Linked DNA regions of Homo sapiens: region 1 is reported to be linked to region 2. The links are microRNA targets in miRTarBase. Many come from high-throughput screens and were not tested one by one. Region 2 holds a microRNA gene; the other region holds the end of a gene's coding sequence.
Evidence for each region. The annotated mature microRNA hsa-miR-218-5p reads UUGUGCUUGAUCUAACCAUGU and lies in region 2 at 1,580-1,600, shown strand. An mRNA with a match to its seed (bases 2 to 7 or 8) in the 3' UTR can be bound and repressed. Matches are read on the target gene's strand: a 7mer-m8 pairs with bases 2 to 8, a 7mer-A1 pairs with bases 2 to 7 and ends in A, and an 8mer does both.

Region 1 (3,090 bases), not on the chromosome of region 2:
GGAAGATTGCTTGCACTTGGGAGGTTGAGGTTGTAGTGAGCTGTGTTCGCCTCACTGTATTCCAGCCTGAGTGACACCAAGACCATCTCAAAAAAAAAAAAAAATCACTCGTTATGAAGACATAAAAATATTACAAGCCATTTTCTTTTTAAATGTTTTCTTGTAGAAGTGGGGTCTCACTATGTTACCTAGGCTGGCCTCGAACCCCTGGGCTCAAGAGATCTTCCTGCTTCGGCCTTCCAAAGTGTTCAGATTACAGGCGTGGGCCACTATTCCTCTTTAATAAAACTGTATTTTTGTTTGTTTTTAGACAGGGTCTCACTCTGTCACCCACGCTGGAGTGCAGTGGTGTGATCTTGGCTCACTGCAGCCTCTGCCTACCAGGTACAAGTGATTCTCCTGCCTCAGCCTCCCAAGTAGCTGGGACTACAGGCATGCGCCACCACACCTGGCTAATTTTTATTTTTTTTAGTAGAGACGGGGTTTCACCATGTTGGCCAGGCTGGTCTTGAACTCCTGAGCTCAAGTGATCTGCCTGCCTTGGCATCCCAAAGTGCTGGGATTACAGGTGTGAGCCACTGCGCCCAGCCAATAAAACTATATTCAAAAACCATTGTTTGTAGGCAAGAATCATCCCCTTTGCCTCTAACTTCTGACTGCATTGTCCTCATAAGGGGAAGAAATCCTGAAAACACTATTTTCTTACCTGCACTGACTTCGAGGCTTGTACTGACAAGCTTTCTTCAAAAAAGTAATCTCTAGCCTGAGCAACACAGTGAGATCCCATCTCTTAAAAAGAAAAATAAAAAAAAAAATAGCTGGGTATGGTGGCAAGCACTGGTAGTCCCAGATACTCAAGAGACTGAGGCAGAAAAATCGCTTGAGCCCAGGAGTTGGAGGCTGCAGTGAACCACGATTGAGCCACTGCACTCCAGCCTGGGTGATAGAGTGAGATCCAGTCTCAAAACAAAACAAAACAAACAAAAAAAAAGCCATAGAGAATTATGTCTATAATATAGGATCCCACATACCTGAATCCTTTCCTGCTCTAACCAAAGACCACATGTGACCACTAAGGCAATGTGTGTACTGATGAGAAACTGCAGCAAAGGAACACTATTCTAGGAGTTATGCTAGATTGGCACCTAGTAAAACCTTCTCAAGTTTTCTCCATATCCTCATCGAATACTCTAGTCAAGCAGCCTCGATTGCGCCCAGGCTGTCTTTAGCCTAGGCTCTGCAGGCCTGGGTGGTCTTCCCAATCCCACAGATGACAGCTTACCATTCTACTATGAGGAAGGCTGTCTCAGGTGAGCCAGGGCATTGGTCCCAAAGGCATGGGTAGAAATGGAACACGGCCCATCTCAAATCTGTTCAACTCAGAGCAAAGGGAAGCACTCTAGCCCCAACCTGGTAGCTGAAAGCAGGTGTCCTAAGGAAGGAGGGTGGTCACGTCGTGTCTGCAGAGGCAGAAGCCTCTGAGAAAAATCTTTCCTGGTCTGTTACATGGAGGCCAGATGGAGACGGTTGGTCTTGTGCCCAAAGGAAGCCGATCTGAGCTGCCTTTCCACTCAGGTTAGTTCAGACGAAGAGCAATGTGTGGAGAGGATCCACCCGCCCGAAAGCTCCGCCCCCAGTACTGCAGCCTTAATAGTCCTGTAATCGGACCAATTTTTATCCGCACTGGGCCACAATACAGGCTCGTATTTAAGGGAGCCAAGATCCAACAGGTTTCACCACTGTAGCATATTTAGACTACCCTCTAAGAGGAACTCTATGCGAACAGCATAACTTCAACAAACAAAGTAGGCTCCCAACAATGTGTGAAAAACTGAAGCAGGGTAAACATTTCAGTGAGGGTCAGTATGGCACTGATTCACTTTACAAAAAGATGCAAACTGCGCAAGTACAAAAACCTCTTTGAGTCCTTTATTAACGTCTGGAGATGTGTGGTACATACAATTAACAGCATCACACCAGCTACAGAAGTACAGATAACCAAGAATGTACTTCAGAACAAGGATCTGAGAGCAACTTATGGTGTTGCCTGCTCTGAACCTCCACAAAAACCCAGTTCTGACACACGCAAGACAGACGATATAACAATTTCACTTGGGAATGGTTTTTTTTAAAAAATGACAAGAACTAATAGTTCAAACCCTTTAGAGTGTGAGATGTGGCAGCTCGCTTGGTGCCGTGGCACTGCTGTAAAAGGCCAACATGGGCATTTGAAGGTCAGGCAGAAGAACCGAATGGGGTGGGTGGAAGAGGTTTTATTTTCAGTGTAGAGAGATAACAGATGGTCCGAGTGGATACTTTCAGTCCAGGCTCAGTATGGGGCCTGCAGGAATCCACTAGATAAATACAGTCTATAAACCGGAAGGCTGAAAAACACCAGCCAGCCATCCTTGTCATTGCTTCCAACTGGTGGACACTGATGCATCCGGAGTCACTTATGACACAGATCAGGTTTAACAGGGGTGCACCCGAACGCAAGAAGGCAGCTCACTATGTCCAGTCAGCTCTGATCCTTTCACGCCCTTGGATGTCATGGGTTCCTCTGCTTTCACACGGGAACTAAGGAACACTTCCTTTATTTCAATGTTCCACTTTGGAAAAAACCAAAACCCTCCCCCCACCCCCACCATCATTCTTCATAAATTTGCTTCCAATCTCCTGATTGTTCTGGGTCTAGACTTTTTCCTTTCGCTTCAATTTGGACACTTTTTTGACAGTCCCGTTCTTGTTAAGCAGCTTCAGGACACGGTCTTTATGATCTAAAACCTTAAGCATGGAGTCTCTGGCTTCACTGATTTGATCCATCACAAGTTTACACCTCTGCATATTTCCCTGAAACAGAAGACATTGCATCATCAATCAGTGACCATGAGGATAGTACAGCTTTTAAAAAACTGCTTGCCTTTGGGCAGAGGCCATGTTGAGGCTTCCACAACAGAGAAAATGTCTTTTTGTTTCTCAGGAGTGCAGGCTGAAGCACGTATGTTTTTACTGAAGATATGAGGGAGACGGGGGGAAACGGGAGAAGTAGGGCTTTACAGAAAGCAACTTCATAAAGTAGATGATCAGAAG
Region 2 (3,211 bases):
AGTTTCAATTTATGATAATTTAATTTACATTCTTTAAACATGATAATTGTAGAAGCCAGGACTCAAAAGGATCATTTGGGCTTCCTCCCCTTTTTTCCAAAAATTTTAATTAAAATTTGAGTCCACCTAACAAGCCACCATAAAATAAGCATTATTACTGTTCCGTTGAATGCAGATTATTTGAATTGCAAGATATCCAGTGTACCTGTCACTTAGACTTTGTGCACTCTTATTTCATTTTGGAGTGAAGCATAAATCATAAGACACCAGATCCTCAGTAAATATCATGGCATTAACTGCCAAATGTAATGAAACGATTATATTTACCATCGCAAACTTCTTATGAGATTCTGATTCCATTTCCACTAAGACACATTATTTATAAGTTGAAAAGTTCATTAAAAAGTGTACATCACAACATAAGGATTAATCCAAATGTTGTAATGATTGTCCTTGAGGATCTCCATGATTAGTTTTTCATTCACTTTTACGTGTGTACCTCGCTACTACCATTTTATATGGCACTCTACATATTACAGTGATAAAAGAAAATCTGTCTTGCAGAGAGTTCATCTTTTTTTTTTTGGAGATGGAGTCTCGCTGTCTCCCAGGCTGGAGTGCAGTGGCATGATCTCGGCTCACTGCAAGTTCCGCCTCCCGAGTTCATGCCATTCTCCTGCCTCAGCCTCACCGAGTAGCTGGGACTACAGGCGCCCGCAACCATGCCCAGCTAATTTTTTGTATTTTTACTGGAGATGGGTTTTCACCCGTCAGGTGAAATGGTCTTGACTTCCTGACCTTGTGATCCGCCCGCCTTGGCCTCCCGAAGTGCTAGTATTACAGGCGTGAGCCACCACACCCGGCCTTGAGAGTTCATCTTTTAAAGGAATCAAGAACTTAATTTGCACTATGCATCTTTTATTACATTGGTTTTCTTGTGAGACCACCGTGCTTCAAAATATTATTTATAAAATTTTACAAAGCATGACAATTCCCATCACATCATGCTATTTTTTCAATAATTCCCATAATAAAGAAAGAAGGAAGAGAGCTTAGTTTTATAAATATGTATATTAATCTTAATTGGGATTACTCTTTCTTTCCTTCTTGGTGATCTTTACTTTTGCAGGAATTCACCATTTTGGCTGTAAGTAAAAGTGTCTGATCTGAAACATAATACCCTCCCTTTTCAATCCTGATGTACCTTCTTCTAGTCTTGGTCTTTGGCACCTTTTTTTCAAGAAGAAACCACAGATCTTTTGAGCTTCTCTGTTGTCCTTGTAGCTCACCTTCAACTTCTTCCTGGATGTTGTTCCCGAAAGCTGTTGTTTCCATTCTGCAGTTCTGAGGAATGGTGGAGGCACCTTTTCCATATAGCCCCTTCTTTGTGTTTCCAGGAAATCATCGGTAGTAATACTCTTACTGTGGTCATAAACATTCTGCGGGAAGAATGCATGTCATGTAAACAGTATTACGTTTCCAGAACGTCTGTAGCTTTTCTCCTCCTTCCCTCCATTTTCCTCTTGGTCTTACCTTTGGCCTAGTGGTTGGTGTAGTGATAATGTAGCGAGATTTTCTGTTGTGCTTGATCTAACCATGTGGTTGCGAGGTATGAGTAAAACATGGTTCCGTCAAGCACCATGGAACGTCACGCAGCTTTCTACAGCATGACAAGCTGCTGAGGCTTAAATCAGGATTTTCCTGTCTCTTTCTACAAAATCAAAATGAAAAAAGAGGGCTTTTTAGGCATCTCCGAGATTATGTGAGAGGGAGAGAATAGTAAAAAGTCCATAGAAAATTTAAAAGCCTGAGTATATCTATTTGCCTTGAAAGCCCTAATTTACAATGAGATATAGGATCATGTTTATTACTGGATATATTTTCAATTCTTGACTCCGAGAAAAAAAATAAACTTTTTAATAATTAATATCCATTGTGTGACTAGCTGTGAAGTAGGCTAGAATGACTCAGAATTGGATCAGCAGAAAGTACAGCTGTGAAAAGCTCAACTTTATTAATGTTTTCCTGTCATGTGAATCTGGTCACTCTTTTTTCCAGAAAATTCCAAGCCTTTCTTTTAACCTTTCTCCTGACATCCATTGACCAAAATACCCCAAGTTGTCTCCCTGCTACATAATCTATAGTTATCTTACTTTTTTCTTCCTACAAACTAATAAATTTTCTAACCTTTAGACTCAGTATCTTTTTTTTGGTTTGAATTCTCAATAGGTACAGAAGATTATCGATCAAAATTAAGTGGAGACTGCTTTGCGGATCTGGCTTGCCCTGAAAAGTGTCGCTGTGAAGGAACCACAGTAGATTGCTCTAATCAAAAGCTCAACAAAATCCCGGAGCACATTCCCCAGTACACTGCAGAGTTGTAAGTTCATCCCCCAACAAAATTCTGGTTGGGATGGAGGGAATGAAAGCATTAAAGCATAAGAATGTTTGTCTTGCCATTTTTATTATTAATAATTGCATTAATTTTAATTAATATGCATTACATTGGCATAACTCTATTTTGTACAAGAATATATTAGAGGCTACCTTCATTCATCTTTCTAGCCAACCATACGATTAAGTACAGAAACTAATTTATCTCTCAAAATTCAGTAAGCACTTCATACTAATAACAATGGTATTTATTTGATGCTTATTTATTGGGTATTATTTATTCCCAATTTGTTTTCTAAGTACTTAGTTTTTAACGTATTTAATTCTTATAGCAACTAAATAAAGTAGTTTGAGAGCCTCCATTTTCAATCTCTGTAAACTATCAATAGATTCAAGGAGTCTGTCTTACCTAATTTACTACTTCATTGACTTACGGGCAGAAGGATTCAGTGGTTATCAAGTATTAAAGTAGAAAGGATAGCTTTTTCTGAACAATGCAAGAAAAGCTGAAAAGGCAGAATATGATGGTATTTACACTTAACAGCCTTAACATAGGACCTTGCACATACTAAGTGCTAAGGTGTTTGTTGGAGCACTTACAGATTCTATGCCCATGCATGGTTTGCCTTTACTGACTTTATTTATAAGAAGAGGACCTTTAATGTTAGTGTTCTAACAATTCAGGGAAAAAACTAGCAAAACCTCATCATTCTCTAAACATCTTAGCCATGTTTATATATAGCACCATCTGGTATTTGTCATTTACTGCTTTGCAAAGTTCGTTGTCTGTTTGTTTGTATATAATCCTTCCATCTTT

Region 1: the mRNA of SAP130 is a reported target of hsa-miR-218-5p. The part of its 3' UTR that is shown has no 7-base or 8-base seed match.

The regions. Positions count from the first base shown.
Region 1 is chr2:127,939,315-127,942,404 of GRCh38, forward strand. It overlaps SAP130 (Sin3A associated protein 130), which reads right to left. Exons shown (of 21, transcript NM_001330301.2): 21 at 1,908-2,850. The coding sequence ends at 2,692. Among named protein-coding and RNA genes, the nearest start is that of AMMECR1L, 55 kb to the left of the region's middle.
Region 2 is chr4:20,526,720-20,529,930 of GRCh38, forward strand. It overlaps MIR218-1 (microRNA 218-1), which reads left to right and starts at 1,556; the gene lies at 1,556-1,665. SLIT2 (slit guidance ligand 2) reads left to right here. Exons shown (of 37, transcript NM_004787.4): 16 at 2,230-2,380.